Linked DNA regions of Homo sapiens. The protein of the gene in region 2 purifies or fractionates together with the protein of the main gene of each other region. This does not show direct contact. Each region holds a gene or a part of one and is shown on either strand. Other genes may lie near its edges. The genes, in order: PODXL, SLC46A2 and HELB.

What was found.
Region 1: the proteins of SLC46A2 (region 2) and PODXL purify together in Homo sapiens (affinity purification with mass spectrometry; one large-scale study listed by BioGRID and IntAct). This does not show direct contact.
Region 3: the proteins of SLC46A2 (region 2) and HELB purify together in Homo sapiens (affinity purification with mass spectrometry; one large-scale study listed by BioGRID and IntAct). This does not show direct contact.

What each region holds. Positions count from the first base shown.
Region 1 is NC_000007.14:131,550,089-131,553,739, forward strand, and holds part of PODXL (podocalyxin isoform 1 precursor), read right to left. Parts: intron 1-3,651. UniProt on the Homo sapiens protein: Involved in the regulation of both adhesion and cell morphology and cancer progression. Functions as an anti-adhesive molecule that maintains an open filtration pathway between neighboring foot processes in the podocyte by charge repulsion.
Region 2 is NC_000009.12:112,888,767-112,892,517, reverse strand, and holds the start of SLC46A2 (solute carrier family 46 member 2), read left to right. Parts: upstream 1-1,641; 5' UTR 1,642-1,836; coding exon 1,837-2,965; intron 2,966-3,751.
Region 3 is NC_000012.12:66,319,346-66,322,996, forward strand, and holds part of HELB (DNA helicase B), read left to right. Parts: intron 1-2,602; coding exon 2,603-2,684; intron 2,685-3,378; coding exon 3,379-3,438; intron 3,439-3,651.

The DNA.
Region 1 (3,651 bases), on a different chromosome or scaffold from region 2:
AGCCAATTATCCCGCAAACATTTCTTAACCACCTATTTGGCTAGAGGCTGTGGAAATGACAGGGGGTCCTCAGCCAGTGGGCCAGTGGCAAACACCGACATATTTAGGCACAATGCATGGTGGCCAGTGCTATGGCACAGTATTCCAGGCACCCTTAGGAGTCTAACTCTTAAATAGCAACATGGCCCCAAGCCTCAATTTACCCTTATGGTAGAGGGGTAGGGAAAGAGATGTGGGCACAGTATAGGTTTGTCACCATCCTAAAGTCCTTTTTAAAGAGGTTTTTCGCCAGGCATGATGGCTCATGCCTGTAATCCTAGCACTGGGAGGCTGAGGTGGGCAGATCACTCAAGGTTAGGCGTTCAAGACCAGCCTGGCCAACATGGTGAGACCCTATTTCTACAGAAATTAGCTGGGTGTGGTGGCGCATGCCTGTAGTCCCAGCTACTCAGGAGGCTGAGGCAGGAGGATGTCTTGAATCTGGGAGGCAGAGGTTGCAGCAAGCCACCTGCACTCCACCCTTGGCAACACAGCGAGATTCCATCTCAGAACAAAAAGAAGTAAAATAAAAAAATATATAAAGGGGATTTGGTGAGTTTTTCCAATTCCCAGGAGGGAATCAGCACTGAAAGGGCTGAGTTCTATTCTGGTATTTACAGCTGACACGTATGCGCACATGCACACACATACATGCACGCACACACACACACACGCACACACACGTGTGCACACCCACCTCCTGGAAAGCTATTTATTGAGAGTCACTGGGAACTTGGGCGAATGAACCCACCTCCCTGGCCTGCAATCCCCCATTTGAAACAAGCAGGTTGTAGTAGATGATTTCCAGAAGGCTCCCCAGCTCTAGAATTCTGTGTCCTATGATTTTCTGGCTCATTTAGAAGTGGTGTGGAAAGTACCCTTTGCCAACCGAATTCCACATTGCACAGCCTGCAGGCTGCCGACTCGAAGCAGTCATATGGCAAATGTTACTGCAAATATGAAGAGGCTCCTTTAAGGGATCCTCTGTGTCAATTTTCTTGAAGGCTTTTCTTATAGAGAATGCCCCCGTCATTTGGCCTGTGCAGGGTAGGAGTCACCATCCCAGATCTGCTACATCACTTGATTTCTTAACAGCCCCATAGAGCAGACAGGATACATGATAAAGAGAGGCCCATCCAACTTAGCCCATGTTCCTGGGTCCGGGACAGGAAACCCCACCAGCTGAGCTCCCTGCCCTGCTTCATGGCCAGTGGGTGCAAATAGGAAATGAGCCCAGAGCTGGGTAAAGAGCTCCTGGCTGAGGTCCAGTGAAAGTGTCCAGGCAGGCTCAGGCTGGTGGGTAGGGATGGGCAGGGCAATGCCATTCTCTTTCTCTGATTATGTAGGAATGACTTCCATTTCAGCTAGAGCAAAGCTTGCATTCAGCAGCCCTGAAGAGGGCCTCTGCCTCAAAGGGTGTGAAGAAGCAGCACTTCCTGGAATAGGGGTCATCTACGTCCCCTCCTGAGAAGTCCAGTGAACTGGAGACACGATTCCTCCCACTTCCCTTAAGAGTGAAGGGCTCTGAGCTGGGTGCGGTGGCTCATGCCTGTGATCCCAGCACTTTGGGAGGCTGAGGCGGGCGGATCATGAGGTCAGGAGATCGAGACCTTCCTGGCTAACATGGTGAATCCCCGTCCCTACTAAAAAATACAGAAAATTAGCCGGGCGTGGAGGTGGGCGCCTGTAGTCCTAGCTATTCGGGAGGCTGAGGCAGGAGAATGGCGTGAACCCGGGAGGTGGAGCTTGTAGTGAGCTGAGATCACGCCACTGCAGTCCAGCCTGGGTGACAGAACGAGACTCCATCTCAAAAAAAAAAAAAACAGTGAAGGGCTCTGAGCTAAGTGCTGAGCCAGCTCCACAGCAGCCACCAGCATCACAGGGGTCACCAGCCCCACAGAAGCCTTAACCTTCAGCAGTTGCTCCCACCAGCTCTAGCTGCTGGAGAACAAGCCCACTGGCCAGACATCCCTTCCCAGGATGCAAACTCCCCTTCCAGGGAGCCTAAAGCCAGGGCTGAAGCCGGTTCCCCTCAGTTCTACAGTCCAGAGTATCCCAAGCGACCGCTCAGCGCTGGGTGCTGGGCTGGGCCCTGGAGGTGGTGATAAGTATGTTGTTGGCCCCTCGAGGGCCTCACCGCATGGTGGAGGAGACACACAGATCATGGAACACACTTTGGTTCTCCCTAGGAAACCAGGGAAGGCATCTCAGAGATGATGCCTGAGGGTGGCTAGGAGTGGCTCTTCCCCTCCCTCCCTGCAAGGGGGGGAATTCTAACCACAGGGAGTCTAGTCCCCTTCCCCTCTCAGCTTTCCACAGGGCAGTGGTGTTAAAACCCCAGGCAGCACCCTCCTCTCCTTTCAAACATGGGTTCCTGAGGAAAACCAGATGGGGGACAGCCTCCATGCCTCTTCCCCCACCTTCTCTAGGCCTGGGGGACACCCTGAGGACCCTCCTGGGCAGGCCACGCTCCCCTCCTCAGCCCTTCTCTGGACGACCACACTCCAAAGCTCTGGCCACACTGACACCAGGTGCTTTTGGGTCTGCCCTTGAATGGCTGGGCTCCTAACCCCGCCATGTCCAGCTCGCTCCTGCCTCAGATCCTGTCCCAAGCTGCACCATGCTGGGAACACCCACATTCCCCCACCCCAGCCCTGGGCACCTTGTTTTTTTCCTTGAGTCAGGGTCTCCCTCTGTTGCCCAGGCTGGAGAGCAGTGGCGTGATCTTGGCTCACTGCAACCTCTGTCTCCCACGTTCAAGCAATTCTCCTACCTCAGTCTCCTGAGTAGCTGGGACTACAGGCGTGTGCCACTACCATGCCCAGCTAATTTTTTTGTCTTTTTAGTACAGTCTTACTAGGTTGCCCAGGCTGGTCTTGAACTCCTAGGCTCAAGTGATCCTCCCACCTTGGCCTCTCAAATTTGCTGGGATTCCAGGCGTGAGCAGCCACACCCTGCCACCGTGGAATTTTCTCTCCAGTTCTGAGAGCTAATCTCCCCAAAGCCTCAATGACTCCATCTCAAGAACCACCATCACAGACTCCCCGACCCTAATCTGCATCTCCCCTACACACTACAATTCATAGAGCCTCAGCCACATTAGGAAACACTGACCCTTTTAATTTTAAAATCCCTATGTGAAAACCCCACCTCCTTCAGGAAGCTTTCTCCAGACCTCCAGACCACCCCTTCCAAATCTTATACTCTTTTCCATATGCCTCCCTCTCCCACAGAGTGGCACTGGGGCTTCAGTTTTTATTATCATATATCCACTGATACCCACAAACATTGGCAGGATCCCAATGCCTGGGGTCCCTTAAACCCACCAGGTGCTCAATATATATGCTTACTAATCATCATAGCTATTTTTTGAGTGTTGATCCTGAGTTGGGCGTAAAGCCAAGCCCATGATATATATACTCGCTCATCTTCATAGCAACCCACAAGGTAGGGCTGTTATTACTTTATAGATGAAGAAACTGAGGTTCAGGGAGGTCCACTATTTTGTCCATGGTCATGCACATCTCTCTGACCCAAAGTCTGAGTGTTTCCACCCCACCAAGCTGCCTTTCTGTTGCCCAGAATTCATCCATTGAACATCAGATTGAGAGT
Region 2 (3,751 bases):
AGACCCTCCCAGAGATGACAAGGGCTGCCCCCTACAGTCTAGAGCCCTAGAATGCACAGACTCCTTGATCAAGTGGCCAGAGTGGTCCATCTGGGTCAGGTTGTTCTCATGGCCATATTTGATTGTGGAATACCACCTGGCCCCATAACCTACTCATTCACTGGAGTCTCCACCCCTCATAGGATCAAGGTGTTTGGACTGTTTGCTGTAGCCTCTGGAAAAATTAAGAATGGAGTGGGAGAGCCAGGCTTGGGTTGGGTGAAACATGTATCTCCCAAGGTGACCCTAGGTGAGGGGGAGGAAGAAGGAAATGGGCTGCTGGGCCAGATCCATGGGGCACATCTTGAAGGGCAAGACTAGGTGTGTCTTTCTCTTTGCAGAAGGCAGAGTCGTCTGGGCCTAGACACGAGGAGGCTGGGCCATGCTGGAGGTTGAGGGTGGCAGGGGAGGAGATTATAGCCCACCTAAACACTACCAAAAGAGCACATAGATACACTAAATCATTTGGAATCCAGTCCCTACTCCCTACATGAGTATATTATCCATGTGGCATTTTAAGCTCTCCCTGCATACCTGCGTCTCCCTTTCATGTCTTTGGGTTCCTGATCATCCACGCTGCCAGAGCTATAGTGGATTGTGGGTAGAGGGACAGGAAGGCTGTGTGCTTTGAGTCTCCATCCCTGGGGCTGACCATGGAACAGGTCATGCTCTGTGGTACATTTTGGCCCCTGCACCATCCATCACCCTGGTTTTCTTTGCAGAAGTATGTACCTAAACAAGAAGCGAGGCCACCTGGGAAGTGGAGGTCTCAGCCCAGCCCAGGGGAGTGAGCCCACAGACAGAAGAAGAGTGACTACTAACAAGCAGAAAGGGACCTGGGCACTTGATTCAGATGAGGACCCTGGTGACTCTGCCCCTTCCAGTGGGCTCAAGCCCCTGCCCAAGAGTCCAGTTTTATCATCTAGGGGGACATCTAGGGCTGGCAGGATCTTGCCGTCTCTCCCTTGGCCCTGGGGTTTGGGGCAGGAGCCTTCTAGACAAGGCCCAGGCACTAGGCCCACCAATGCAGGTGTACCAAACAGGACTCTTCTCTAAGAGGCCTTTGGCTTGGAGAAGAGCCTGGACCTGGCGGCTCCCAAGTTTTTACTTCTCTCAAAGTGCTACCCAGCTGCCTATAGCACATGGGCCCCTGTTGCATTAAATCTATAAATAAAACTTCACACCCCAATACTTATCCTAGGCAGAATCCTAGGCGTCCCACCCCTCGCGCAAACCTGCCTTCCTGGGATGGGAGAATTTGGAAACGCTCCCTGAGCCAGTCCTGGGGAGCTTCCTTCCAGCCCCTGCCCCGGTGGTGGGGGGTCCGCAGAGATCCGCGGGAGGTCCGGGCACGCACGCCTGGCTGTGGGGAAATTCGGCCCCGTCAGGCGGCCGCGCTCACAGGAGCAGCGTGACCCGTCGGCCCCGGGGGTGCTGGCGCCAGGAGCCAGCACTCGCGGTGCGCTCCCCCGCGCCTGGCTTCCCTGGACTGTCGCCAGTCCTACTCTGCCTGAGGTGGCGAGGGCAGGGTGGAGCGCGGCCTTTTCTGGCCTGAGGAGGAGTCACTCGGGAGGTCACTCGGCTGCTGGGCGGGCTGCTGTCACAGGCGCTGCGTGCCCTGGCTCTGCTCGCCACTGGCCGGCGCGCTCCCGGCGCACGGAGCACACTCGCGCTCCCGGCGCACGGAGCACACTCGCGCTCCGGGACTGAAACCTGAGCAGCCGTAGCAGCCGAATTTGGGAGCATATCCTTGTCACTGCAGCCAGAAAGCCCTTCGATCCCCATCAGAGAGGTCACATGAGCCCCGAGGTCACCTGCCCGCGGAGGGGCCACCTGCCTCGCTTCCACCCGAGGACCTGGGTTGAGCCCGTGGTGGCCTCGTCCCAGGTGGCTGCCTCCCTCTACGATGCGGGGCTACTCCTCGTGGTGAAGGCGTCCTACGGAACCGGAGGCTCCTCCAACCACAGTGCCAGCCCATCGCCCCGGGGGGCTCTAGAGGACCAACAGCAGAGAGCCATCTCCAATTTCTACATTATCTACAACCTTGTGGTGGGCCTGTCCCCCCTGCTGTCCGCCTACGGGCTGGGATGGCTCAGCGACCGCTACCACCGAAAGATCTCCATCTGCATGTCGCTGCTGGGCTTCCTGCTCTCCCGCCTCGGGCTGCTGCTCAAGGTGCTGCTGGACTGGCCAGTGGAGGTGCTGTACGGGGCGGCGGCGCTGAACGGGCTATTCGGCGGCTTCTCCGCCTTCTGGTCCGGGGTCATGGCGCTGGGATCGCTGGGCTCCTCCGAGGGCCGCCGCTCTGTGCGCCTCATCCTCATTGACCTGATGCTGGGCTTGGCGGGGTTCTGCGGGAGCATGGCTTCCGGGCATCTCTTCAAGCAGATGGCTGGGCACTCTGGGCAGGGCCTGATACTGACGGCCTGCAGCGTGAGCTGTGCCTCGTTTGCCCTGCTCTACAGCCTTTTGGTGCTAAAGGTCCCTGAGTCGGTGGCCAAACCCAGCCAGGAGCTCCCCGCCGTGGATACCGTGTCTGGCACGGTTGGCACATACCGCACTCTGGATCCTGATCAGTTGGACCAACAGTATGCAGTGGGGCACCCTCCATCTCCTGGAAAAGCAAAACCCCATAAAACCACCATTGCCTTGCTCTTTGTGGGTGCTATCATATATGACCTGGCGGTGGTGGGCACAGTGGACGTGATCCCTCTTTTTGTGCTGAGGGAGCCTCTCGGTTGGAACCAAGTGCAGGTGGGCTATGGTATGGCTGCAGGGTACACCATCTTCATCACCAGCTTCCTGGGTGTCCTGGTCTTCTCCCGCTGCTTTCGGGACACCACCATGATCATGATTGGGATGGTCTCCTTTGGGTCAGGAGCCCTCCTCTTGGCTTTTGTGAAAGAGACATACATGTTCTATATTGGTGAGTCTGTCATTCTTGAGGAGGCAGGACATTGCTAGCCCTCTGCATCATGGGGCTGACACCAGGGATGCCATGGTCTGGGTGTCCTAGCTCAGCACCAGGGATTGAACCTGCTACCTAGGAGGCACAAGGGACACAAGATTATATGCCCCTGAGTTTATCTGTAATGTATTGTTAATTAATTATCTATATTGAGAATGAAATGTTACCAGAGTGGTGTTCATGGTTCTGGGCAGTCAAGGAGGTGTGGTCAGTGGTACCTGGAGTCAGTAGGGGAGGCTTCAGGATGGCCTTCAACAGAGGAGATGGAATTGGGTTTCTTCCCCCACACCCCCTTGCCATTTTAAAGGGATGGAATTTCAAAGGCCGAGCGCAGAGGCTCTCGCCTGTAATCCCAGCACTTTGGGCGGGAGGTGGGAGGATCACTTGAGGCCAGGAGTTCAAGACCAGCCTGGCCAATATAGCAAAACCTCATCTCTACCAAAAGCATAAAAATTAGCCAGGTGTGGTGGTGCACACCTGTAGTCCTAGCTACTCAGGAAGCTGAGGCACAAGAATCACTTGAACCCAAGAGGCAGCGGTTGTAGTGAGCCGAGATTGTGCCACTGCACTCTAGCCTGGGTGATAGAGCAAGACTCTGTCTCAAAAAAAAAAAAACAAACAAACAAAAAAAAAAAAACGTGGAGGAGTGGAATTTCAAGTAATTCTACTGAAAAGATCCCTTAATTAAAATCATTTGGAGTCAAGCAAGGGCTTTTTAAAAATGCATTAAAATACTCGGTAAAT
Region 3 (3,651 bases), on a different chromosome or scaffold from region 2:
GAAATCTTCTCCTTTATGTATATGACCTGTGTCATGTCACTTAACCATTTGTAAAATGGGAACCATAGTGGAACTCCCTGTGGAGCTATTACGAGGGTTGAGGGCATTCATCAGTGTGAGACACTCTATAAATGTCAGTTTGTTGTGACTAATAGATGTTATTAAATTAGCTATTGCAAGTGAATTTATTTAAATAGATTGAACTTATCTGTTGATCTTTATTTTCATTATAAACTCACCTAGCAAACCTTTTAAAAATGGTGTAATGGTTTTCTCAAAATTGAATTAGTAAAGGTTTAAACTATTATTACTGAGGACTTTTTGTAGTTGCCACTGTTCTCAAAGGTATATCCTTCCCACTTAACCACTTTCACTGTGTATGTGAAAGTAATGATATACAACTTCATCTGTCAGCCTTTTCCCCTTAGTGTGTGTCCCCAGTCTCACTTCCCGTGGGTTAGTGATCATTTACATGTTACAACAATGTATTTAAATAAATGCGATCATACATAGTGTTCTATAATGTGCTTTTTTGGTTTTTTTTGTTTATTGTAGAAACTTTTTTTTTCTATTTTTCATTCAGCAAATACTTATTGAACTCCTGTTATATACTAGATACAATACAATAGATAAAGCAGAGGAAAAGATTAAAAAAAAATTGTCCCTGAGGTTATTGTGCTTTCATTCTAGTGTGGGAAACAGATAATTAAAAAGTGAACAAATATATTTTCAAACATCAGAGTACAAAGAATCAAGTAAACTTAACTAAATACTTACCAGTGACTGATTAAATTTGTTGCAAGATTGCTTTAGATTGTGGGGGCCAATGATTTGAGAAACAATTTATACTCTTTAAAAAAAAAAGTCAATGATACAGGAATGTTTGAAGTAAGAATTAATGTTCCCTGGTAATTTTCCTTTCTCTTCTTCCCCCAGGACAATCCCATTAAGGTCACACACATAGTAAAAGCTTGGTGTTTATCCTTTTAACCTTATTATATCCATATACAATCATATTTATTTCAGTTTTACATAAATTGGTTTATAAGCTGCATATTGTTTTGTGACTTAGAAATGTATGTTAAATAATTAATAGCTAATGTTTCTTTTCACAGCTTAGTTAATAGTAGGTCCTATTTACAGGTGAGGAAAATGAGACTTAGTTAAATAGATCTCTTTCTTTGCCACTTCACTTAATTCTACCTAAAATATTGTTGGTTTTATTTCTGGTACCCATTCTTTGCATTAATGAGAATGTACTTTTAAAAAAAATTGTCCATTTTAGACTGGTAGCAGAGCTTACCTGATACTGCTTTTCTAAATTAAAAACTTCTGCTGGAAAATTAGTCTCTTCTTCAAGGAAATTGAGTAAATATTCCTTAGGAAGCATATAGTACTTTTTCACTAATTATTAAGTTATTAAGTAAATTATGCCCATTATTACAAAGTACTAAGACCTAAGACAGGATTCATATTTGGGCTAGAATTTCAGAGTTGCTAAAATGTGAGAAAAATGTATATCTTAGAATCAATAAAATACGTTGTACATATTGATCTGCAAGATGTGGGGAAAGTGAAAAAAGGTATGGAACAGTGCCATCCTGTACATGTTAAAAAGAACAGTATGCTGGGAGACCTTTGGAAATTCCTGTTCCGGAAGCCAGGGGTTGGTTGAGGGTGAGCTGAGTCTTGGCTGTTTTCTAGCGGTAATCTTCCCTTCATCTGAAAAATGAAGGGCTCAGCAGGCAGCTAAGTTTGTCTTCCCAGAGCAGGGCATCACAAGGCATGGGCTTTTTCATTCCCTTGTGATTCATCTGCTATTAGGGAAACATACATGGGAAAATGCTTGTACTTCCATGAGCCTTAGTTTTCACATTCATAATATGGATGTCATCAGAAGTCAGACTACCCAATGGCTGTAGGGCATGAGCACCATTGGAATGGATGCCCCCGCTATGCCAGGGTTAACCTTTTAGTTGCTAGATCATGGGGAGGTCTGGGGAGAAGGAAAGAGATGGTTGGGGTGGGGAGTAGAGCATTGTGTTGTTAGGGGAGTGGCTGTTTTCCAGCTAATATGGAAGTATTGCTATGTTTTATACAAGTGTGTGCCAGTTGAATATCAGCTCTGAATATAAGAGCACCTACCACATGTGGGTGTCCTGCATATTAAGTGATATAACATATAAGGCCTGTATATTGTCAAGTTCTAACTGATTACTAACATGATCACAAGGACTTAAAACAGGAAGTTTTACATTAGTCATGCTGTTACACACTTTGTACTCTTGTTTATTTCTTAAATTCAGTGTTCATAAACCATCAGCAAATACACAGTGAGTCTATTACAAATGGGGAACTGTCCTGGCCAGGGGTTGACCTCTCTGTTGAGGGTGGGTTGTCTTGGAACCCTTCTTTCCATTCTCTTTCCTATTGCCCTGGCTGATGTGGGGAATGAGGTTGACATTCCCATGGTGAACTTGTATTCCATTTGGTGAGATATTTTCCCAGGGCCCTTAGCAGGAATCCCAGATTAGTTTCTTCATAGAAATTGTGTTATAATTTGGTGATTTGCTGTGTTAACTTTTTTCTCTTGAATTATTAGGTTTATATTCTGCAGTTAAAACTTTACTACAAGAAAATAACTTACAAAATGCAAAAACATCACAATTTATTGCATTTAGAAGGTAAAGCATTTATAATATTTTAATGTTTTTAATCTAGCTTTTAAATCTCATAACTTATTAATATAGATCCTGTTTGGATGGGAGATTCCAATATTTCATCACTGTTAATTCTCTTTCTTATTTTGGGGTATGTCTTTGTTAGACATGGCAGAGGGCGCTTTCTAAACAGAGCTCTTTCCACCAAGTATTATATTTAGAAGCTCATAGGGACTCTGAATGGAACAAAAGCTTATGCTAAGATAAAAAATACAGGCTGGGCTTGGTGGCTCACACCTGTAATCCCAGCACTTTGGGAGGCCGAGGCAGGCAGATCACTTGAGGTCAGGAGTTTGAGACCAGCCTGGCCAAAATGGTGAAACCCCTCCTGCCTACTAAAAATACAAAAATTAGCCAGGCGTCATGGCACACACCTGTAATCCCAGCTACTTGGGAGGCTGAGGCAGGAGAATTGCTTGAACCCGGGAGGTGGAGGTTGCAGTGAGCCGAGAGCACGCCATTGCACTCCAGCCTGGGCAACAAGAGCGAGACGCTGTCTCAAAAAAAAAAAAAAAAAGATAAAAAGTAGAAAAATACTATTTCCTGGAGAAAGTCTTGGAAACGTTTTGTAGAATCTAGTATGTCATAATTGCTGATAACAAAAGTAAACCTGTAGCAGAGACCATTAAGGTGACCCCTGCATTTTCGTGTGTTTCAGGCAAGACTGTGATCTAATTAATGACTGCTGCTGCAAACACTACACAGGCCACCTCACCAAGTGAGTGTCTTCGAGAACTGAAACTTTTAAGGACAGTCCTTCTTCGATTTGCTGGTTTTTTTTTTTGCTTTGATGTTTGTCACCTATTTACATATATTCCCAAAATAGTTTTTTTTCCCATTTGTGAAATAGAATGATCTCTTCAATTAAATACAATATATGAATACATCCTTGGGAATTGACATTTTAGTAATGAGTGGAATAAGAAGAAAA